Linked DNA regions of Homo sapiens. The protein of the gene in region 6 purifies or fractionates together with the protein of the main gene of each other region. This does not show direct contact. Each region holds a gene or a part of one and is shown on either strand. Other genes may lie near its edges.

Region 1 (2,814 bases), on a different chromosome or scaffold from region 6:
CCATCAGGTGTTTGCAAGTGACAGCTGTAGTGTGTTGCCTCAAATAATACCAAGTTATAAATAATACCAAGTAATTATCAACTCACTCCCAAATTTAATAAGATATCAAAGTCCAAAAGGTTACTTAGGAGTAGTCTTCCGTGGGGGAAGATAAATTTATTAAAGAGTCATGTACTGATCTTTTTCTTGGGATTTTTTTTCCTTTCCCAGAAAAAAAAATTATTTTGGTGACTGATCAATTGTAAACAATTTTCTTCCTTACTTACAAATCATCCGTTCAGAAAAATAAAAGTGGACTTCCTTTCCTAAGCATTACAATTAGCCTGGGCAAGAGGTGTTATGATTGTCTTATTCTTTAAGCCGGCTTACTTTTTGGATTTGTGTGAAATGTCTTTTGAAAAGAAAGTAGATAGTATAGTATTAATTAACTACTTTGTATAGTCTTCTGCATAATTTAGAGTTGAAAATAATGTAACATTTTCCTGTGAACAGATTCCTTTATGCGTACATACTTTATAAATATACATACATACACATACACATACATTTTTAAAATGCTCTTTTTAAAGAGATTCTTATCTTGCTCCCACTCCAAAAGCTATGTACAGTTGAGTTATTAGCCTCAGAGGAAGAGTACAGGAAAGCGAAGATGAGGACCTCCTTTTCTTGTGTTGGTCTTGGGAACAAACAGTATTCCGTCTTTCAAATATGGCATATTTCTAAACAGTTTGGGAAAGATGTTAGAATTTTTTAAAAGTCAGCTCTTTTATAAATTGGAAGTACTCAGTAGTCAGAAATTAAGATCCCCTCTGATAGAGATAGATTCTCAAAACCAAAATTGGACTGAAAATTAGATTGAGAAGAAAGATACAACTTCCTCCATAGCCAATAAAATCTGTCTTTCCAAGTCTGCTTATTAATGCTGTGAATCGCTCCTTCTGTTTGTGAAAACATCTCCTGGACTGGAAATGTGGTGCTGTAACCAGCTGAGCCGAAAGTTGGAGAATGTTAAATATCTTATATGGGACTTACGATAAAATGTATTGATGTTAGTGATTGTCAAAATAGGTTTATCATTTAAAAAACTAGGAAATTACTAAGTATAAAGAAGAAAAACCAGTATTAATTAAGTGATGAGACCTGTTCATTTTGTTTTCCCTGACTTATTTCCATTACCAAACATAGTAAAGGCCAGAAAAGATTAAAAAAAAAATTAACACAGCCATTCCATTGTTTTTTACCACATGGAGAAAGGACCAGGCTGGAAGCATATGTCCCCCCACCCTTATTTATATTCCTTTGAGCATTGCCGTTTTCTAGACAGACAATCCGAAAATAATTGTGTTGATAGGTCTGTTTAAGCCTGAACTCTGGGTGTAAAATGTTATCCAGAAGCTATAGGGAGCTGCCTTGCTCAGGTCATTGGAAATTTCAACCCTAAGACTCATTGGAATTTCTAAGTCCGTTATGCACCATTATGGGCATATGGAGCATATTCATACCATGAGGAGGAGTCTTTGTTTATGATGGACTTTTTAATATGGCCATAATTAAACTCACACTCAAAAAGGATGAGCTATTGTCAAAAGCCAAAAGAAAAACAGACAAAATGAACATGAAGCAAGGAGTCCATAAAACAAGAGTTCTTTACCACGTTTAAGCAAATGTCTCTCAAAAAAAATTGTATTTCTGTGCACATTAGCTGAGATTCACACATTTTGCACCTCAGTAGTATTTCAGATGAGACTCAATGTGTGGAGAAAACCGCTAACTTGTTTGGTTCTACTCTTACCCCCTCTTCTGTGGCAATGTGGGGTCAGGGCCGTATCCTAAAGTATCCACATGGTCTTAAATGGAAATCATGGGACTCTGGAAAGCTGGCATGAGCTGGTTGGAGCTTTTAAACAGAAGTGCTTTATGGGTATCAGATCTCTTCTGACATCAATTGTTTCAAATCATTGTTGGGCTCTGTCGTGTTCTGCAATCTTCCCCATTCCCCTCATGATCTCTGGCTTATCTTTTATCCAATCTGTATGGACTTTTTAGGATTTTTTTTTTCTTATAGTACAAATAATTTTCAGATCCCAGCTTTGGTAAATGTGTTAATTCTACTTTGTGAATAAATAAATGAGTGATCTGCTAAAAATGGCAATTGTAGAATTATGTTGTATGTAATGTACATATGGAGAAAGAATGTATTTTGTTCATTTTCTTAATAAAATGTTATATATGGATGCTACAAGATATCTCTTGTATTTGCTCAAACTACTTTTGAAGTGAACTTTTAAAATGTTTTTGTACTTTACAGTTGTGTTTTTTCCCCCAGAAAGGTGAGTTTTATTTAGGCTTCCAAAAGGAAAGTGATACGCTTTCGAAGGGCCTTTGGGTGTTTTCCTTTGAGACGGTGCTCAGATGAACAAGTACCGGCCATGCTCACAAAGTTTCTGCGGGGAGGCTTCCACTTATTTAAAGACCACTGGTAAATTATTTCATGAAATGTTCTTCTATCTACTGTTAATGACCACCCTTATTTTATTTGCTTTGTCCACTTGGACTTATGTTCCTCTTTAAAGGGGATATGCTTGTACAGGCTGGAACTAGAAGGAAAGACTGAACTGAAATGGAAAATTCACTGTAGAAAAGATAGTAAAGGGAGAGAACCTAGAAGTGTTGCAGTTTGGGAAAATTCTGGATCCCTGTCCCCATTAAAGGGGAAAGACACTTTATGGGCCAAATCTTGAAAAAACTAAGCTGAGAAATATGCCAGATAAAAGTCCTGGGTCACTGGGGCCGAGTGGTGGGACTCTTAGTAAT
Region 2 (3,685 bases), on a different chromosome or scaffold from region 6:
GAATAGTAATGGGTAAATTCCGTCTCTAATTGCAATATTTCCTAATTACTAAATTCCAGAGCCACTGTATCAACCCAATTATGGCAAGTCCTGCCAGAGTTCTCCATGGTCTGAGGACTCCCTGCCTTACTGAGAGGCACCTGACAAATGCCTCGGGGGAGCTTTCCTGACTCCCCACCCAGCTGCTGTCCTCCCCTGGTCCCAGACTGTCCAGTGATGAGGCCCTTGGGCTTCTAGTTTCTCTGCAGGGGATGGGAGGAAGTGAAGCAAGCTTTGTGATTGAGGAAAGCCTTGTGTTGACAGGCGACTATCCTGGGGTTGGAGAGCATCTGGGAGCCCTGTCACTCTGCACCAGCCACCATCAATGCTCCCAGCTTCAGAACTCCACTTTGGGGGCTAGGGGGACCCAGGAGAGGAGGAGAAACAACATGCCCTGGCCTTGGGGAGCGCCCAGGCTGATAGAGGAGACACGGTTATTTTGAGTTCTCCTTTACATCCCAGGTGCCTTTTACAGAGTAGGTGCTTAGTGCATTGGAGTGGAACGTGGAGGAAAAGGCGGGAGGAAAGTAGGAAGTAAGGAAGGAATGGGGTGCTCTGGCTCAGGCTGAGTTTAGACTCTGGCTACACCTGCACGCAAGGGTTGACTTTTGGGCTGTGAGTCCCATAGGGATCTGACTTCTCAGGTCTGGAGTCTCCGAAGGAGAGAAGCAGTCACACACCCACTAACTCCCATTCTCCCTGCCTTTGCAAGGGGCCCTCCTCCCCAGCCCACCCCTAGGACCCTGAATACACACATATGCACACACACACGGCTGCTGGGCTTCAGAGGAGCCGTTTAATTGCCGAGTTGAAACCTGCAAGGGCTTTTGGTGCTGATGACATCAGCATGCCATCACAGATAGGGCTGCTGAGGCTGGAGCAGCTCTGGATTCAGCGGGGTGTCCCATCATGCACTCAAGACTGCCCACCCTGGGGCCTCCCTCCTTGCTTCAGAGCAGGTGTTCCTGAAGGAGGTGCCAGAGCCCTTATGGAGAGCCCAAGGAAACCCAACATCAGGGAGGGAGAGCTGATTCAATTCCTCCAAGGAATCACTGCCTAATTTTTGTAAAGGCTGCTGCCTGATTTAAATCACCCAGCCTCCTGCTTCTACTCAACGCGTTAGTGGCCTCATCCCAAGGACCCGCACCTGTATTCTCGGGCTCCATTTGCCATAGGTAGAGCTGGTGAGAAGCGGCGAGGAGAGGAGGAAGGGTTCTGACCACTCAGCTGCTGTGGCCTGGAAGGCCCCCTGCAAAGTGCCTATGATCTGGGGATTTTGAACAACCACACAACTTCTCTGGGGATTTTGAACCACACAACTTCTCTGGGCCTTTGCCCGTTCATTGTAAAGTGGGGACAGCGATGGCGTAGCCGAGGACTGCAGTGATGAGAGCTTGACCGCCCTTGTGAGCCGCTCTATCCCCGAGCAGGGGAGCAGGAGGCGCAGGGAGGAGCCCTGAGGTTCCCTGTTGTGCGGGACCCACACTGACTTTGCCCTTTCTTATGCCTGATGCTTAGTGTTACTGACAGCAAAAGCTGAAATCCTGAGGTCCCCGGCTAAAGTGACCAAGGAAGGGCCTCTCCTGACTTTACAGCAGCAGGTAACCCCCCTTTCTTTCAGATTTGGAGGCTGCTTGGCCATTTTAATGGACCCTGCTACTCACATCCTACTTCCCTAAGTGTGAGGGGCTTTCAGAATCTAACCTCCTCCCTGGCACTCAGCCAGCAGGGACTTTATCCTCATCAGAAAATGATCCAGGGAGGAAGCTTCTACAATATCTACTGCTCATCTTGGATTTTGGGAGTCCTTTTTTTTTTTTTGAGACCGGATCTCACTGTTTTCCAGGCTGAAGTGAAGTGGCATGACCATAGCTCACTGCAGTCTCGACCTCCTGGGCTCAGGCGATCCTCCTGCTTAACCTGGTGTGCCACCATGCCCAGCTAATTTTTAAATTTTTTGTAGAGACAGGGTCTCCATATGTTGCCCAGCCTGCTCTGGAATTCCTGGGCTCAAGCGATCCTTCTACCTCAGCCTCCCAAAGCGCTGGGATTACAGGTGTGAGCCACTGCACCTGGCCTGGGGAGTCCTTCTGGATGTTTAATTTTAGACCCAGCCTCTCTAGGGGAGGGGGCTGGCAGCTAGGTGTTCCCCTGCCCTCCAGGCTCACAGTGACTCTCAGGTCCCTCTGGGCCTGGATCCAAATTTACCCATCACTCTGGCTACTTCCTTGAACTGTCAGTTCCAGAGATGAAAATGAAGGATTGCTGGGACAAATCCTTCCCAGAAATCAAGCTTTGGCAAGAAAAGACTCATTAGGCATAAAAACCGTCTTCGAGTGAGGGGGATGAAATGCAGGACTGACCACCAAGACGGTGAGGGCAACTCCTTCCCTTGAGTTTTAAGAATATCAAAGGTGGACAGTGCTCCCTGCAGCTGGAGAACCCAAGACAGTGTTGTGTGTGTGGGCAGGAAAAGGAGCACGCAGGCCACCCAAGGATGAAAAGCACTTACTCCTCCCGCGCCAGGCACTGTTCTACACGCTTTACAGGAATTAACCCATTTCATCCTCACCAAGAACAATCTACGTCATAGTTACAAATTTTAGCTCCATTCTACAGATGGCAAGACTAAAAAACAGAGTGTGATTGACTCGCCCAAAATCACAGCAAGTGGCAGAACCAGGATGAACCCTGGCAATCTGGCTGTAGTCACTATACTGCCACTTAGAAAAAAATCTCTGACTTGATGTTTCTCCAATGAAACTATATTATTTATCACAGGCTTCTGGAGTCCAGGAGAAGCCATAACTGAATCCCAGCTTCTCTGGCCTGGCTTCTCTGACTGAGTGGAAGATGAAGAATCAACTTGTTGCCTATGGATGGATTATTCACGTAGGGAATTTAGAACTGCATCTGTCTGGTGGTCCAGGGGCTACTTCTAAAATAACACGAATAGTTATCAGTTCTACAATACTACCCTGAGAGTTAAGCATTATTACCTCTGTTCTTTAGAGAAAACTGTGCAGACATTGTCAGATCATCCTGTTACATGCTCTCGAAGCTTCCTACATACCTTCATAACTCTTGGCACAGTCATGATGAATTCTTTATGTAATTATCTAATTGTGTGGTATTCACTAGATTGTAAATGCCACGAGGGCAGGAAACAGGTCTGTTTTGTTCCCACCTGAATCTCCATTGCCTAGCACAGATTCTCAAAATGCAATAGTGGAACGAATGCAGAAGGGATGCTGAGTGGCTCAGTAACATGTGTAGGGCCTGCGGCTGTGCTCACCTCCCCACCCAGAGAGACTACAATAGTGGCACATGGTAGGTACTCACTAATAAAATACTTGTTGCAAATGTCAGACTTTGTACTTAGCAGCCCTGGGATTTGAACCCAGGCCTGTCTATCTCCTAGCCTCCATTCTTTGGTGCTTCATATTTAACCACTGCACTGAGTGACCCTGCCCCCCCATTACTCCCTCTGACTTGCTGTTCCAGTTCTTAAAGAGTATCCCCACCACCCTGGACCTTCAGTGGTGGGGATACTCTGGCTTCAGCTAGGACCTGCCTAGACTGGGGAAGTCCACAGAGCAAATCCCAAAGCCAAGTGAAGTAGTGTTTCTACTCATCTGCAGCCTTA
Region 3 (2,694 bases), on a different chromosome or scaffold from region 6:
CCATTTTTTCTGTCCCTGGACTTCTGTCCTGTCTGAGTGAAGTTTCCAAGGTCCTTTCTCTGGACCCATGCTTCTACCTGGACTAATGCACAAGGGGTTGGGGTCATTGCTGTTTCTCTATCCCAGAAGGCAAGCCCACCCTTGCAGTAGGGTCTGTTTTATCAGGTCTTTTGAATAACTTCTGAGATCACCTCTTCAAGATAGCAACTTGGGGGAGATTTTAAAGAGAGTCTTTGGCAGTGGGAACTGGGGAGGGTTGCATAACAACAGCCCGACAGGATGTTGGGTTGGCGTGGGAGAGGGAGACTGACCTCTTCTTCCACCTCTCCATCTTGATGAGACTGTAATTTGTGTCGTGACGCCTTCTCCCTGTGCCCTGAACTGTGCTCTTGGATGTGGCTCATGGAGCCTGTGTTCTTAATGAGTCTGAATCATTTCCCTCCCCTATAGACACGGGTCCTGGAAAACGGAAGAGAGAAGATGAAGCCCCTATCTTAGAGCAGCGTGAGAACCGCATGAATCCCCTCCGCTGCCCTGTCAAGTTCTATGAATTCTATCTCTCAAAATGGTGAGTTGGTGGGTTGGCAGGAAAAGCGTTAGCATGGGGACCCGAGGGATCTACTTTGCCTTGGTACTGATCTTCTGTCCTGCCACCCCCACTCCCACTCCCACCCCCGATGTTGCAGTCCTGAAAGCCTCCGGACTCGCAACGATGTGTTCTACCTGCAACCTGAACGGTCCTGCATCGCCGAGTCACCTCTCTGGTATTCTGTGATCCCCATGGACCGCAGCATGTTGGAGAGCATGCTCAATCGCATCCTGGCTGTGCGCGAGATTTATGAGGAACTGGGTCGTCCTGGGGAGGAAGACCTGGACTGAGCTCGTGTGCCATCCATATCCATCTTTCACATCAATGTCTGTCCTGTGGCCATGTCCCTCAGGGTGACAGGCCCAGGAACCAATGCTACTCATTCTGAAGGGCCCTGACTGCTCCTTTCCGCTCACCCATTCCCTGCCTTCTCTAGGAACCCTGGCTTTTATCTTCTTCCGTACCACTTGACAACCATGGGGCCCTGGTCTTCTGTACTCAGGGGCTGGTCTCCCAGTGATGGGCAAAAGCCAGCTTGCCCGTTTTCTTTATGCTTCAGAGTAAACCCCTCCTTCTGGGTCCAGACTCTGGGTGGAGTGTTAATAGCTCTGGTGATCCTGTTGGCTTTGGGTTTCCTGACCCATCCCGCATAGGTAGAGCCTCTTGTTCCTAGGCATGACCTAGGGAAAAACCCAGCTGCCTTCTCTGCCCTGTGCCCACTCCCTTCTCTACTCTTCCCCAGCACCATGCCAAAAGGTCTTATCTGAAAGGTAAGAAATAAACAATGAAAGCGATGAGGGGACCATTTACATAAAACACAGAGCTTAGACACTCTTCCCCTCCTATGAAATAATTGGTTGTTGGCACCATCTCACCACCGCATATCCCTCACCCCCTCGGCAAGCACCAATCCTTGGTGCTGCCGTTTTTAAAATCTTCCAAATGCCTTTTTTTCCTCAGAGGCAGAGAATGACTAAGTACGGGGAGCAGACTCCTGTTGTGCAGACTCCTGTCCCCTTGGTTTCTGTGTTTGTCTCTCTGCCATCTTAGGTTGCCATGAGCCATGGTGTCAACATGCTTAGCCCCCTCTGTAACTGCCTCCCTTTAGTTCAATGGACAGACCTCCCAAGGCAAAAACTACCTTCTGACTTGGGTTGAGGCTGGGTTCCCCTCTATTGTTCCCCTATCATAAGAGCTAGGCCAAGCCTATGGGACCTTGAGTCATGCAGGATGGGATCTGTGGTCAAAGGACAGGCGAGGAGCTGTGGGCGCAGGGCCTGCCGCCACTGCCTACATCTTCTCTCTTCCCCATCTTGCATTGGAGGTCCCAGAAAACAATTAGCTTCTGGCAAAGGGGGTACCCACTTCTTTCCCTGTTGACTTTGCTGTTTCCCAGGCTCCTTTTTGTGTTTTTATAACTGTCACCAGTTAGCCACTGTTTAAATTGTATATATTGTTCTGAGGCGCCTGGCCTGTCCCTTCAGTGAGCCATGCCCACCCTTGTGTTGTAGTGAGAAGCTGTTGTCACGACTAACCTTCTGTCTCTGAAATTGTTTGTTTCAAATAAAGAGTTAAAATTGTCTTTTGTCTTTTCTGGGTGATGGATATAGAGGAGCAACACTGGATAACTTCAAATCTCTCCAAGTGTAAACAAGTCAGGTGTTTGAGAATCGTTCTTACTTTACTGTCTTACTTTGGATCTACTGGGAATGTGGTGTTTTTTTTGTTTTTTTTGTTTTTGTTTTTGTTTTTTTTTTATAACAAGTTTCCAAACACTTAAGGAAAAAAAAATACTCACTCACTAGCTATGTATTAAGGACCTATTATGTTTAAAGACCTAGATTACGTGCTTCAAAAAATACAAAAAGACTGGTTAGACCAGGATCCAATCCCCAGCAGGCTCCCAGGCTATAGGGGAGACCAAATAGTACACAATTAGTCATAATACAGGCAGAATAAAATGAATAGTGCTATGGGAGGACAGAGGAATAAATAACTCACTTCAGGTTTACAGGGAGGCTGGGTGCAGTGGCTTGCGTCTGTAATCCCAGTACTTTGGGAGGCCAAGGTGGGAGGATTCCTTGAACCCAGGAGTTCAAGACTAG
Region 4 (3,027 bases), on a different chromosome or scaffold from region 6:
CCTCCTCCCTGGAGAAGCTTCAGGAGACCAAGGCGTCCTGGGCATGTGCCCAGGAAGCACCCCAGGTCCTGGCTCACTCCCTAGGTGACCCCGGGCCAGCCTGGGCCTCCTGCATCCGCAGTGAGGTGGGGTCCAGCCTGTGATGGGGAGGAAGGAAGCCCCAGGCAGACAGGCCCATGGTCACAAGGCCCCCTCCACAGGCCAGACTGGCGGCCTTGAAACGGCCAGACGACGTCCCACTCAGCCTCTCTCCCAGCAAGCGGGCGTGTGCCTCCCCGTCGGCCCAGGTGGAGGGCAGCCCTGTGGCAGGCTCCGATGGCAGCCAGGTGAGCTGAGGTGGCAAGGAGCAGGTGGCAGATGAGTCGGGGCTGGGCAGCTGTGACCCTTCTCTCCCCCCACAGCCTGCTGTGAAGCTGGAGCCCCTGCACTTCCTGCAGTGCCACAGCAAGAACAACAGCCCCCAGGACCTCGAGACCCAGCTGTGGGCCTGTGCCTTCGAGCCGGCCTGGGAGGAGGGTACATGGTGGCGGGCAGGCGGGGCAAGGGCCGCTGGAAATAGGGCCGCCTGGATGGGTGGGGGATCAGGAGACAGAGCTTAAAAGGCGCCATCAAGGCTGGGAGGAGGAGGCTGCAGGGAGGACCTAGATGGGAAATGTCTCTGCTCATCCGACCTCTCAAAACCGGGCACTCAGGGGCCACATCCCAGACCGTGGCCACGTGCGGCGGGGAGGCTGTGTGCGTAATTGATTGCCAGACGGGCATCGTGCTCCACAAGTACAAGGCACCCGGCGAGGTGAGTGCAAGGCCCTGTCCCTGCTGGGCAAGGGTGCCCGACTGACTCCTGAACAGCAGCATGGGGATGGATGCAGGCTCGGCCCCCTGCCCCATGGCCTTTTTCTTTCATGCTGGGGCTCCCTCCCCCAGGCCCGGGCTACCCGCGTGTTCACACCAATAGCTCTGCCCCAGTGACTGTTTACTCTAACCCCCGCCCAGGAGTTCTTTTCTGTGGCCTGGACCGCTCTGATGGTGGTCACACAGGCTGGCCACAAGAAGCGCTGGAGTGTGCTGGCGGCTGCAGGCCTACGGGGCCTGGTCCGGCTGCTGCACGTGCGTGCCGGCTTCTGCTGCGGGGTCATCCGAGCCCACAAGAAGGCCATCGCCACCCTGTGCTTCAGCCCCGCCCACGAGACCCATCTCTTCAGTAAGCCCCTCCCCTTCACCCCTGGGACCCCCAAGCACCCCTGTCCTGCTGCCCCAGTAGCCTCCACGCTCCCCTCCCTGGGATGGCTGTGAGCTCGGGCGCCTGCCGGGCCCCAGTCTGCACCGCTCCGACTCTAGCTTTGGCAGGAAGCCATGTCGCTTCAACCCTGGCTTTATCCACAGCCTGCTCTGTGGCCTCGGAGTTTTCCAACAGCCTGGGCCACTCTGTCCCCTGTCAGTGACCTGGGGGGATGCCCCTGCCCCCGGGTGTGGCGCCCCTGTCAAGGGGGATGGATGAGCCACAGGAAGTGGCCGCTGGAGCCACCGCATCAGGTTAGATGGAGGAAACAGGGATTGGGGGCCCAGGAGTGTTCCTGTCTCCTAGCCTCGGCCCGCCCTCCCCGCCTCGGAGGGGCTGGCCTTGGGACCGTGGGCTCAGCCTGGGATGCAGCCAGCAGGAGGGAGCAGGGTCATCTCAGGGCCACTTCTCCCCTACCCCACCCCCTCTTCAGCGGCCTCCTATGACAAGCGGATCATCCTCTGGGACATCGGGGTGCCCAACCAGGACTACGAATTCCAGGCCAGGTGATGCTTCGGGTGAGGCTGGGGAGTGGCCAGCTGCTGGGGCAGGGACACCTCGGTCTGGGTCTGATGCTCTGTTCCCCCTTGCCCACTGGCAGCCAGCTGCTCACACTGGACACCACCTCTATCCCCCTGCGCCTCTGCCCTGTCGCCTCCTGCCCGGACGCCCGCCTGCTGGCCGGCTGCGAGGGCGGCTGCTGCTGCTGGGACGTGCGGCTGGACCAGCCCCAAAAGAGGAGGTGAGGCTGGGCAGGGGGCGCCTTGGAAGCCAGGCCTCTGCAGAGGGTGGCTGTTGGCCCAGATGGGCTCACAGCAGCCTGGGCACACCCGGGTAACCATAAGGGTTGTTTTTAGAGGCCTCTTCGCAGAGCTGGCTTGTCCCACCTTTCTGCCAGGCTCTGGAGGAAAGGACTCTGACCCTGCTCTCACCCTGGGTTCAGCTGTGGGACTGGGCCATGATGACCTCCCCTTCACCTGGGGCTTCAGCACCATGCTGTGCCCACGTGATCCAGCCCACTCCTGCCACTCATCAGCAGTGTGATGGTCCTCTGTGCTGGCATAATGTCCTCATCTGTAAAGAGGGGCCGATGGCTAGCGGAGGGCAGGTGAGGTGGTGTCTGGGCAGGCAGGCTTTGGAAGTGCCACGTTGAGGCTTTCTGGCTCATCTGTCCCACCTGGAAGGCCTCTGAGACAGGGCTTGGCAAGGGGTCCCTGTCCTCTTGGGGCCCCCAGCCTACTGGGGAAGACAGATGCTCAGCAAAGGTGGCCAATCAAAATCCCACAGTGTGATGCCAGCTACGAAGGAGACGGAAAAAGAGTAACGGGCAGAGGGACACTAGCGTGGGGGCCTCAGGGGACTCTGCTGAGGTGACCAGCGGCAGATGGATATTCTGGGGCTCACGCTTTCCTCCCTGGGAGCCTGGTGAGGGAGTCAGCGGGCGGAGGGTGGGGAGGTGCTTGCATGGAGGAAATGGTACGTGCAAAGGTCAGTGGCAGGGGAGCCAGCTGGCCTGCTCCACCATGTGGCCACAGCTGGGTGGACCCAGCCCAGAACAAGGTGGCAAGGGTGCCTGGGCGGGGCACGCCGGGCTTCGTCAGCCACGGTAAGCTTTGCATTTCTATTTATTTACTTTTTATTTGAGATAGAGTCTCCCTCTTGTCACCCAGGCTGGAGTACAGTGGCTCGATCTCGGCTCACTGCAACCTCTGCCGCCAGGTTCCAAGTGATCCTCCTGCCTCAGCCTC
Region 5 (3,685 bases), on a different chromosome or scaffold from region 6:
ACAGATGTAAGCCACCGTGCATGGCCTCTGGCTTTAATTCTAATAACAGTATTTCAGACTATGTCAGGAATGCACTCTAACCCTTAAGTGTTAATTTCCAGCAGCAGAACTAAGCAAACTTTTTTTTTTTTTTTTTTTTTTTTTTTTAAGAGACAAGGTCTTGCTATGTTGCCAGCCTGAAACTCCTGGGCTCAAGCAGTCCTCCCAACTCAGCCCCCCGAGTAGTTGGGATTACAGGTACATGCCACTGCACCTGGCTAAGAGAACTTTCTATAAAAACATCCAGGACCATTTATCTCAGTTTAACTAATTCCTAGGGAAATCTACTTTTCATTTTGTTTCCATCTCAATTTACATTTACATCAGAAGTCTGTTGCCATTAACAGTTTTTGCCATTTATATTTCAAATTTTTCTTAAACTGGAGAGGATTTAAGATGAAAAAATGATGCTCCCAAGGTACAACTTACAATAAAACATTAAAGAGAGGCTTAAAACCTCAAGAAGTGCCTTCCTACAGGTTAGGTTAGAAGAAAGGGTCTAATGTTGGATTCTAAGTAAGGTTAACAAAACATACCTGGTAATGTGGCAATCATTAAAGTACACCAGAGGAATACAGTAACTTGACTACCATTAGAGGTAAACCCTATAGTAGCTTTCCAGATGGCTAAGAAAAAGCCAGGAAGAAAAAAAAAAATGGCACGTGAGGCAAATATGTATGCTTCACTTTAGAACTTGGCCAGACTTCCTTAAACAGTAACTTCAGAGGATAAACAGCAAATATCTAATCTAAAATGTTTGCATTGACCCAATCCACTAGACATACTATTAATACATTTCATTAATAAGATGACATCTTTGTCATATTAATTACTCCCCAATGCCCTATTGGCAACCTCAAGGCAGCCTCCGTTCATTAATTTATCTGTATCATAACACATTCCTGGGGTTAGATGGTACTTGAGAAATCTGGCTTCTGGCCCAGGAACTATGTCCTACAGAGGTAGAGATAAAAAAAAACTGCTGCAAAGAAGTGACTAATTCATAAAATTCATCACTCGCTAATTTTTGAAAAGCTTTCAAAGACTTTCTACTCACTCCAAGAGCAGAATGACTAAATCAATAAAGAGCAAGTAGCCTCCTTTTCTGACTGATTTTAACAGCAATGATGTTTCTTGGCTACATTTGTAAAAATAAAAGATGAAGTTTTTAATATTACTATAAAGCTAATCTAAAACTCACTGGCTTTTGGCTCTAAAATGAAAATATACAAAGTCACTACCCCATGCCTATTGCTGATTCAATTAATTCAGTTGCCTGTGTTCCAAATAGGTGAGGGTAAACAGCAGATTATCTTAGCTCACTGATAATCTGCTTTAAAAAAAAAAAAAGCTAATTCAATCTCAGAGACTTAAAAACTAACTCTAACACCAATGTTATGCAATAAAAAGTCTGGTTTGGATACCGTTATTTCTCTTTTATAATCTGGATATTTCCTAGACATGTTTAGAATAAACTTTTATACAGTAGAAATAATGGAGTAATGAATCTATCTACTGAAAGCATTTTAATAGTCACTTTATGATTTTAAAAGCCTATTACTCCCCTGATAGAATACAAGACTTAGAGCACGAAACTCAAGATCCCAGTCTTTCACAACAGGGTGCGCTTCTATACAATGTCTCCTACTAGAATCTGTTTGCTTTTAAAATGCCAGTATTGTTTTAAACTGGCAACAAAGAGGCTGCTTTCTTTCAGCTCTCTGTAGACAAGCTTCTGTCTTAGGTTGGTCCTACTCCACACTAAGGACCATGGCACTGGAACTGATTCTTTTTTTTGAGACTAGGTCTCGCTCTGTTGCCCATACTAAACTGCAGAGGCGCAATCTCAGCGCACTGCAGTGATCACTGCGCAATCTCAGCTCTACCTCCTGGACTCAAACAATCCTCCCACCTCAGCCTCCCAAGGAGATGGGACTGCAAGTACTTGCCCCATGCTTGGCTTTTTTTTTAAACTTTTTGTAGAGACAAGGTCTCAATATTGCCTAGGCTGGACTTGAACAACTAGGATCAAGTGATCCTCCCACCTTGGCCTCCCAAAAGTGCTGGGATTACAGCCATGAGCCAGCCGCACTCAGCCTGGCAGATTCTTATACATTTAATTGACTGCATTTAGCAGGGTGCAGTGGCTCACGCCTGTAATCCCAGCACTCTGGGAGGCTGAGGCAGGAGGATTGCTTGAGCCCAGGGGTTTGAAACCAGCCTGGGCAATATGGTGAAACCTCATCTTTACAAAAAATACAAAAATTAGCCAGGTACGGTGGCGTGCACCTGTAGTCCCAGCTACTCGAGAGGCTGAGATGGGAGAATCACCTAAGCCCAAGAGGTCGAGGTTGCAGTGAGCCATGATAGTGCCACTGCACTCTAGGTGACAGAGTGAGATCCTATTTCAAAAATAAATAAATAGACTGCACTTTAAGAGGTTGGTGGTGGGAACTAAAAGGTCACAAGCATTCTTAGCCTCCCACTCTAATCATCCTAGGAAATACTACCTAATAAGATGTCACAATTCTTAAGTAAACACCTAAAACCCTGGAAATATAAAAATATCTTCAAGCTGGGTGCTGCGGCTATGCCTGTAATCCCAGCACTTTGGGAGGCCAAGATGGGAGCATCACTTGAGCCGGGCAAGTAAGACCTCATCTCTTTAAAAAAACAAACAAACAAAAAAAAAACAACCAAAAATTAGCTAGGTATGGTGATATGCCCCTGCGGTCCCAGCTACTCAGCTGAGGTGGGAAGATCACTTGAGCCCAGGAGTTTGAGACCAGCCTAGGCAACAAAGTGAGACCCTATCTCTACAAAAATAAAAAAAACTTTAGAAAGATAAAAAGTTTACAGTGTGGTCCACAGACTAGAAATACTGATTTACTACATATAGATGTCACCTGGACATTCTTACCCAGCACATAAGGAAATAAACAGTCCAAGTTATCCCTCTTTCAAAGTATTTCCTTTTCTCCTCCCATCCTTTCCTTCACCCGACATGGATCTTCAGAGTTCATAAAAACACAAATGATACAAATGCAATCTCAACCCACCTCACCACCACCCTGGAGAATCCTTACCTTACAATGGAGAATTTAGACCCTGGATGATGGTAATGAAAAGTTCATCAAACCTAAAATGGTCACTGGTCTGAATGACACAGCTGCTTTCATTGTGATATTATCAGTACTTAATTTTCATGTGCCCTTGCCAAAAAGATACGAAAGAAAAGCCAACAAAAGGTTTAAAACTCTTCATCTGTGCTGTCATATTATTAAGACGGTCCAGCTGTGGAGCTGAAAAAAGAACTCTTTGGCCGGGCATGGTGGTTCACACCTGTAATCCTAGCACTTTGGGAGGCTGAGGCGGGCAGATCACAAGGTCAGGAGATTGAGACCACCCTGGCCAACATGGTGAAACCCCTCCTCTACTAAAAATACAAAAATTAGCTGGGCATGGTGGCGCATGCCTGTAATCCCAGCTACTCGGGAGGTTGAGGCAGGAGAATCGCTTGAACCAGGGAGTCGGAGGTTGCAGTGGGCTGAGATCGCGCCACAGCACCCCAGCCTGGTGACAGAGCAAGACTCGTCAAAAAACAAACAAACAAACAAAAAAAACCTCTTCATTCCTAACTCCCCAG
Region 6 (3,685 bases):
GCGTGGTGGCGCACGCCTGTAATCCCAGCTACTTGGGAGGCTGAGGCAGGAGAATTGCTTGAACCTAGTGGGCGGAGGTTTCAGTGAGCTGAGATTGCACACTGCACTCCAGCCTGGGTGACAGAGCGAGACTCTGCCTCAAAAAAAAAAAAAAAAAAAAAAAGGATATGAGATTTGAATGGATACCATCCAAAAAAACTTGATTGTCCTGTCCACTTATGGCTTGGTGAGATAAGTTGCTCAGTGTAATTTCTGATCAGGGAATGCAAATGGAAACCAAAGTAAAAAACCATTTATACCCATCAGATTGGCGAAATTAAGAAGCCTGCTGATAACTAGTGTTACCCAGGATGTCGCACAGCAGGTGCTGTCATGCACTTACGATTGGAAAACATTTTGGCATTTCTTAGTAAAATCAAACATTTTCCAGTTTTGTTACCTGGCAGTTTTATTCATTGGTTAAAAAATATCTTAATGAAATAATTTCATGTAGATAGAAATGTACGTGACATTTTGTTCATACCAGCAAAAAAATGGAAAACAACTCAAAAGTCCAGTAGTGCAAAGGATAAGTAATACTATACAGCTATTAAAATCAGTGAACACACCTGCATGTACCACTGAATGAATCATGAAGACAATTTTGAGTTAAAGAAGCAAGTCACAAGGGAATACATGCTGTATGTTTTCATTTATATGATGATTAAAATTTGGCAAAAAAGAAACAATGTTCGGTGGTAAATCTAAGGAAAGGTTGGGGTGATGAATAATTATGAGAGTCCTTCTCACTGGGCTGAAGGGGTGGGAGGGACAGTAGAAGGGCTTTGGAAGTATTAATCATGTTTCGTCCTCCCAATCCGATGTACCTTGCTACATCAGCATTAACCACCTGCCACCTGGATTGCTGCAGCAGCAGCCTCTTAAGGCTTCCACAAACCCATCTTCCAGCCACCCACTCGTGGTCTGCTGAAGTGCCAGTCTGATAGTATTGCCTGAACAAAACTCCTCAGTGGCTCCTCTGCATTGGAGGATGAAGTCTAGATTTATGAGCTTATTTCCTCATGCCCTCTCCCTGCCTTCACCTCTAGCTTGTACCCTGCACGACCTGTTTGCTACACACAGTCCCTCCACAGAGCCATGCTTCTTGCCTCTGCACTGCTTCTCATGTGCTTTCCTCTTCTCTGAAAAGCTCCCCCTTTCCCCTATTCCTTTCTCCTGATGAACTCTTAGCCATCTCGAAAAACCCAGGCCACTTGTCATCCCTAGAGGCCTTTTCTACCATTATTCCTCTTCTCCACAACCTTGGTGCTTTGTGCTGTGTGGGAACGTTTCTTAATGCATGTATTTGCTCTTGTTCTGTCATCCCTCTAGATGAAAAGCTTGTTGAGATCAGGAACTGTATCTTACTCTCCTTTGTGTTTCTAGGGCTCATAGATGTTGAATGAATGCCTAATTATTTAAATGATAGAATATTGGATTGGAAGTTAGGAAATCAGGTTCCATGTTGGTTCTGCTTTTGACTATGCCATACCAGGCTCATTTGAAAATTTTCTCCCACCTCCAAAATAGGAACACTTGAGATGCTTTATTATTTGCATATTTTCTTTCCACTCTTGATACTTCTGTCTAAATCAGTGAGGCAGGGCATGATTCCTAGTTTTCAGGAAACTGCACTGGTCTTTTAGTAATGCAGTTTACTAAAGAAGAGTAAATCTCACTCGTTACTGAATGTCAGTGACTTCAAAAAGTTTGTGGGAAAAATGGAATTAAAATATAAAAATAAAAACTGTAAACTTTATTTCTCAAAATAAGCTCTATCAAGTTTAAGACACTTTTGCCCATGATGATACCAACCTTTTAGTTCATCCCTAAAGAACTGAGGGTCCTGTGAATTGAACCACGTCAAATGCGGTCTTTTACATTATTAACAGAAATGAGTGCCCTTTAAAGATTTTTTTAAGATTAGGAAACAAGAATAAGTCAGAAGGAGCCAAATCAGGACCATAAGGTCCTAATGGCTTCCCATCAAAATGCTCACTAAATAGCCCTCGGATGAAAGGAATGAGGAGGAACATTGTCATGCTGGAGAAGGACTCTGGTGAAGCTTTCTTGGGCGATTTTCTGCTAAAGCTTTGGCTGACTTTCTGAAAACACATAAAAAGCAAACGTTACTGTTCTTTGGTTCTCCAGAAAATCAACAAGCAAAATGCCTTGGAGCATCCAAAAAAACATTATGACCTGTGCCCTTGACCAGTTCACTTTGGCTTTGACTGGACCACTTCCATCTCTTGGTAGCCATTGCTTTGATTGTGTTTTCAGGTTCATACTGGTAAAACCGTGTTTTATCTGCAGTGGCAGTTCTTCAAAGTAATGCTCTAGGATCTTGATCCCACCTGTTAAAAATGTCCATTGAAAGCTCTTCTCTTGTCTGCAGCTGATCTGTGTGCAATGGTTTTGTCACCGATCGAATGGAAAGTTTGCTCAACTTTAATTTTTCAGTCAGGATTGTGTAAGCTGACCCAACTGAGATGTCTGTGGTATTGGCTGTTGGTTCTGCTGTTTATTTGCGATCTTCTTCAGTTAAGACACGAACAAGATACATATTTTCCTGGCAAATTGATGTGAATAGTCTGCCCTGAGGGCTTCAACATTGTTTCATTCCTTCTTGAAACAAGTTATCCATTTGTAAACTGCTGATTTCTTTGGGACATTATCCCCATAAATTTTTTGTAAAGCATCAGCGGTTTTACCATTCTTCCATCCAAGCTTCACCGTAAATTTGCTATTTTTTCTGCCTTCAATTTTAGCAAAATTCATATTGCTGTTACAGGGGTTCTTTTAAAACTGATGTCTTGTCCTTCTTAGTGCCTCATACTGGATCCTGTTCATACAAGTTACTACAAGTTTATTTTGGTGCAAAAAAATGGTGAAATCCTTGCATAATTTTTTTCATAATACACGTTTTCCATGAGCTTTTTGAAGATTTCTTATATATATGTATCTTTTCCAACGCATGAAGCATTATTGAGGACAAAAATAGTCTTAAATCATAAAAAAGATTTATATCCAATATACTAGAAGGTCTGCCTTTCAATTAACTCTATGTAACAATTTCCTAGTCCCCCAGCCTGTGGGTCTCTTGCTGGTAGCTTCACAGGTAGTCCCAGAATAGAGGGGAAAAACGGCAGTGTCACACGGAAGTGGGGGAGGCAGGGAGCTGAGTGCCTGGAGCTGCATGAGGCAGGTGTTTCCTCTCGTGAATACCCACAAAACTGGGATAAAATGTTTCCCTTCTGTGGCCTGCTCTCTAGTCAGAAAGCTTACTGGGATGAGAACAGACAGTGCTCTTACCCCTAGATATCTCTTCTTTCATTAATTCACTTCATTTCTCCAAGTACTTTCTGATGGTGGTCATGGTTACAATTCCAAAGCAGAAAATAATAGAGGGGAGATTTGTTTTTTTTAAATCAAAATGAGGAAAGGCACATCTGAAGAAGAGACAAATATGTACATTTTTCTGAAGGTAACTATTACACATATTCACTTTTTTTTTGAATTGTGGAATTGTTCATGAGTATGTAAACATAGAGAGAGTAATATGAACCCTGGGTGTCTATCTATCAGCTTTGACAATTGTCAACAGCTCTGTTTCCCTTCTTGTTTTATGTCTGCTTTTAAACTTCTA
Region 7 (3,685 bases), on a different chromosome or scaffold from region 6:
AAAGAGGACAGTTAAAGAACTAGAGTAGGAGAATCAAAGTTGGGACATAAACTAGTTTTATTAGCCATCTACAAAAATAGCTCATTTGAAGAAAATATGGCATTAATCTGACTAGGAAAAAGGAAAGTGAGAGGAATGCATGGTATAAAAATAAATGTAGTTGTTCAAGCACAGCTGTTGTTATTTTTGAAATGTTCTTTGGCGTCAGTTCTATAGTCACATATTTTTAAATGTCTATGGTGCACATATTTGAAATGGCACTTACCAAAGTGTGAATATCTCCTTCACTGAGGGCAAGATCCCGCTTAGTGATGAGATGGTCCCGCTCACCTTGCCCGGCAACCGTGTCATTCTTTTCAGTTGTTTGCAAAGATGAGATCTAATGCAATCACATTAATAAAATGGTGGTAAATGATAATGAAAAACATTTTACATCAGCATTTTGATATAAACTCTTAGATATGATTAAAAAATAGTGAATGAAAATTTAGTATGACAGAATATTTACCACTCAGTATATAGTGAGCAGTAAGGACAGAAAATAAAGATTAGAGTCTTTAATATGTACCAAAAAAGTTAGCTCTCCCTAACCATTATTTTCAGCCCTTGCTTAGCTAGAGTGGAAACTGATGAAACATACAGAAATGGCCTGAAATTCCACAGTACATTTGTGATGTCAATCATGGGTATATCTTTTATTTTGTTTCTTCACCTTTCCTTAGATCATATTGTGTAATAGTTTCTAGTGCAAATCTATGATGGAGATGACTATATCCAAAAGTCAAGATAATCATGAGTAAAATGGTATAGCTTATCCCAAAGGTAGAAATTTTAACAACAAAACACCCTTGATGTGATATTATGCCCTGAAGAAACAACAACGTGATGGAGCCAAGGTCAAACTGAGTCACTGAAGGACACATCTCATGAGGCTCAGTAAGCACTCTATGAAGATGTGGTTCACTAGACATCACAGAATCAATTCTTACCCATTATACAAATGAACTTATCCTAAGTGTACTGCTTATGAACTAAACCATTTTTTGCAGAGTGGGTTTTATATTAAAATAGTTGTTTTATTTTATGAATTTCTTTTACAGGTTTAGAAAGAAGGCAATGAAATATCATTGTAATGAAGAGCTGCTATTAAGCATATTACCTTAATTCTCAAAGGGTTGATCTCCATATCTGAAGTGCAGTTCATTGGTCCATCAATATCATAATGAAGGATATACAACAGAGTGTTATTATTATATTTGTAAGGCCACTGAAGATGGAGCATTGCCTTGCTGAATGAACTTGGACCATTGTTTCTCAGCTAAGGAGAAAAAAGAAAATGTATCTACACCTTGGGCAAAAATCTGTTCCATAATCCTTCCCCTACATCAACTTTAGAAATCATGTTAGCAATAGGTTTTAAATAACAGCAATTTCCACAGTTAACCTCTAATTACAATGTGACCATTTTTATGCAAAAATGATCAAACTCAACATTTGTCTCTAACACAGAGTAATATGTGTCAGGATAAAAATATAAACAAGGTTGGGCACAGTGGCTCATGCCTGTAATCCCAGCACTTTGGGAGGCCGAGGCGGGCGGATCTCTTGAGGTCAGGAGTTCATGTCCAGCCTGGCCAACGTGGTGAAACCTGTCGGTGAAACCCTGTCCCTACTAAAAATACAAAAATTAGCCGGGCATGGTGGTGCACACGTGTAATCCCAGCTACTCAGCAAGCTGAGGCAGGAGAATCGCTTGAACCCGGGAGGTGGAGTTTGCAGTGAGCTGAGATCGCGCCACTGCACTCCAGCCTGGGCGACAGAGCAAGACTTCACCTCAAAAAAAAAAAAAAAAAAAAAAAAAAATATATATATATATATATATATATATATATATGTATGTATGTATAAACAAAAGGCAAAATATTTAAAAGTTATTAATGAAGGATGACAAAGAAAATTTCTTCCTATAGAAATAGTTTTGATTATTTGCCATAGGTATTTTCAATTTTTAGCCAGAACTACAAAATGCCCATGAGAAAGTACCAATGACATTTCTTTATTCAAGTAGAACTAATTTATTTTAAACAACAAATTATATAAACTGCTTTATTTAAACAAGTCTATTTGTCAAATAAAAATGAATTTATGTATAGGGAAAATATTCAAAGAAATCTCTGACACATACTTAACCAATGTAGAGTTTACATAAAAATTACATAGAATTTTTTTTTTAAAGTAGCTTAGTTGTTCCTCTCTTCGTTGGCTTGCTCACGAGGTTTGAGTAAAATCTAACAACTGCAAACCTCATAGATGTGCTGAACAACTGGCCCAACATCTTCTTCAGTCTCAGGGTTCTCCTTGTGCTCCCAGTTTGGAATCGGAAGAAAGACATGATCAGGACTCGAGACTCTAAACAATGACCAAAGAAAACCTACCATGAATATCAAAATGATATAGTCAGTTCATTTTCAAAAGTACCCCATATTCATTACTCAAATAAATAAAATTAGATTTAATTTTAAAAAATACTTTAAAAGAAAACTAATGAACACACACATGCACAAAAACTGCTCTTATGAAATGTACACGTAACAGGTGAATTGACAATTTGTGTAAAAGTTCAACAAAATTATTTTGTGCATGTTGTTGCCATGTCTTGTTCCTTTTGAGGATCACCCAGTATTGGGGGTTTGGAACATACCTAGGATTTTATTTCTACAGAAGCTAATGCCCTAGTAAAACCACCACTAAACATGCAGGGTCTATTGTCCAGAAAAGGCTAAGGCCTGACAGTTACCTTTAAAAAGCAATCATGAGAATGAGATACTCAACTAAGTATTCATACTGACCCTCTTATCTCAACTGCAGCTAAAACAGCAAGATCAACTTTGTGAGATACAACTGGGCTTACTTTGTCAAATAGATTTGAGCTGAAAAAGAAAAAAAAAAACTTAAAAATGAATTATGCATAACAACCAAGAACATACAGAGGCAAACCCAGTGAAACTAAAAATTAACAAACGAAACAAGTGTAAAGCTTATACCTCAAAATAGTTATTTTCATTAACACTTAATTCCAAGAAGATGAACATTTTCTTTCTGGATTTTAAATTTTGTTTTACAAACTCAAATCTGACAATAAAATTATTCTTATAATGTAAATATTGATTTTAAAATGCTATAGTCAAGCAATAAAATTTAATCTGCTACTTTATATTTAAAGTATATTACATAGTATATTTACAACAAATAATATTTATTTGATAGTTATAAGTGAATATAAGTTGTTTTCATACCTTTGGATTTGTAAGTCAAATTTCACAGAAGTATCCATCTCTGACTGCTGGTGCACACTGAAACGAAGACCAGCTAAGAGCTAAAGGAGAGAGGAAAAGATAGTAATGCTAGTCAATGTCTAATTAGCAAAATTTCAAATCCAATGTCTAAATAAAAAATAATGTTCTAAAATGGGGTTTTTCTGAGCTTACAATAAAACTGAACAAAGATAACTAAATCTTATTTTCTATCAAACCTATTTTACTTAATATACCTGGACCAATCCATAAGAGAGCCTATTTAACAACAATTATTAATCATAATTATACCTCCTTATAATACTAACCATCTTTCTAAAAAGTGCAAAAGTAAATGTTTGTTGATCCAGTGAAAGTCTAGCAACTGGGTA

Evidence for each region.
Region 1: the proteins of GGH (region 6) and MKLN1 purify together in Homo sapiens (affinity purification with mass spectrometry; 3 studies listed by BioGRID and IntAct, with this or other methods). This does not show direct contact.
Region 2: the proteins of GGH (region 6) and SYT2 purify together in Homo sapiens (co-immunoprecipitation; one large-scale study listed by IntAct). This does not show direct contact.
Region 3: the proteins of GGH (region 6) and ZMYM3 purify together in Homo sapiens (affinity purification with mass spectrometry; 2 studies listed by BioGRID and IntAct, with this or other methods). This does not show direct contact.
Region 4: the proteins of GGH (region 6) and LRWD1 purify together in Homo sapiens (affinity purification with mass spectrometry, with the first as the bait; one large-scale study listed by BioGRID). This does not show direct contact.
Region 5: the proteins of GGH (region 6) and DCAF8 purify together in Homo sapiens (affinity purification with mass spectrometry; 3 studies listed by BioGRID and IntAct, with this or other methods). This does not show direct contact.
Region 7: the proteins of GGH (region 6) and ITGAV purify together in Homo sapiens (affinity purification with mass spectrometry; 2 studies listed by BioGRID and IntAct, with this or other methods). This does not show direct contact.

The regions. Positions count from the first base shown.
Region 1 is NC_000007.14:131,494,394-131,497,207, forward strand, and holds the end of MKLN1 (muskelin), read left to right. Parts: 3' UTR 1-2,239; downstream 2,240-2,814. UniProt on the Homo sapiens protein: Component of the CTLH E3 ubiquitin-protein ligase complex that selectively accepts ubiquitin from UBE2H and mediates ubiquitination and subsequent proteasomal degradation of the transcription factor HBP1.
Region 2 is NC_000001.11:202,703,876-202,707,560, forward strand, and holds part of SYT2 (synaptotagmin-2), read right to left. Parts: intron 1-3,685. UniProt on the Homo sapiens protein: Exhibits calcium-dependent phospholipid and inositol polyphosphate binding properties. May have a regulatory role in the membrane interactions during trafficking of synaptic vesicles at the active zone of the synapse.
Region 3 is NC_000023.11:71,239,101-71,241,794, reverse strand, and holds the end of ZMYM3 (zinc finger MYM-type protein 3), read left to right. Parts: intron 1-450; coding exon 451-568; intron 569-686; coding exon 687-879; 3' UTR 880-2,171; downstream 2,172-2,694. UniProt on the Homo sapiens protein: Plays a role in the regulation of cell morphology and cytoskeletal organization.
Region 4 is NC_000007.14:102,467,862-102,470,888, forward strand, and holds part of LRWD1 (leucine-rich repeat and WD repeat-containing protein 1), read left to right. Parts: intron 1-200; coding exon 201-326; intron 327-401; coding exon 402-516; intron 517-692; coding exon 693-793; intron 794-993; coding exon 994-1,201; intron 1,202-1,712; coding exon 1,713-1,785; intron 1,786-1,880; coding exon 1,881-2,021; intron 2,022-3,027. UniProt on the Homo sapiens protein: Required for G1/S transition. Recruits and stabilizes the origin recognition complex (ORC) onto chromatin during G1 to establish pre-replication complex (preRC) and to heterochromatic sites in post-replicated cells.
Region 5 is NC_000001.11:160,255,894-160,259,578, forward strand, and holds part of DCAF8 (DDB1- and CUL4-associated factor 8), read right to left. Parts: intron 1-3,685. UniProt on the Homo sapiens protein: May function as a substrate receptor for CUL4-DDB1 E3 ubiquitin-protein ligase complex.
Region 6 is NC_000008.11:63,018,148-63,021,832, reverse strand, and holds part of GGH (gamma-glutamyl hydrolase isoform 1 precursor), read left to right. Parts: intron 1-3,685. UniProt on the Homo sapiens protein: Hydrolyzes the polyglutamate sidechains of pteroylpolyglutamates. Progressively removes gamma-glutamyl residues from pteroylpoly-gamma-glutamate to yield pteroyl-alpha-glutamate (folic acid) and free glutamate.
Region 7 is NC_000002.12:186,666,395-186,670,079, reverse strand, and holds part of ITGAV (integrin alpha-V isoform 1 preproprotein), read right to left. Parts: intron 3,377-3,685; coding exon 3,297-3,376; intron 2,931-3,296; coding exon 2,850-2,930; intron 2,410-2,849; coding exon 2,304-2,409; intron 1,319-2,303; coding exon 1,160-1,318; intron 380-1,159; coding exon 266-379; intron 1-265.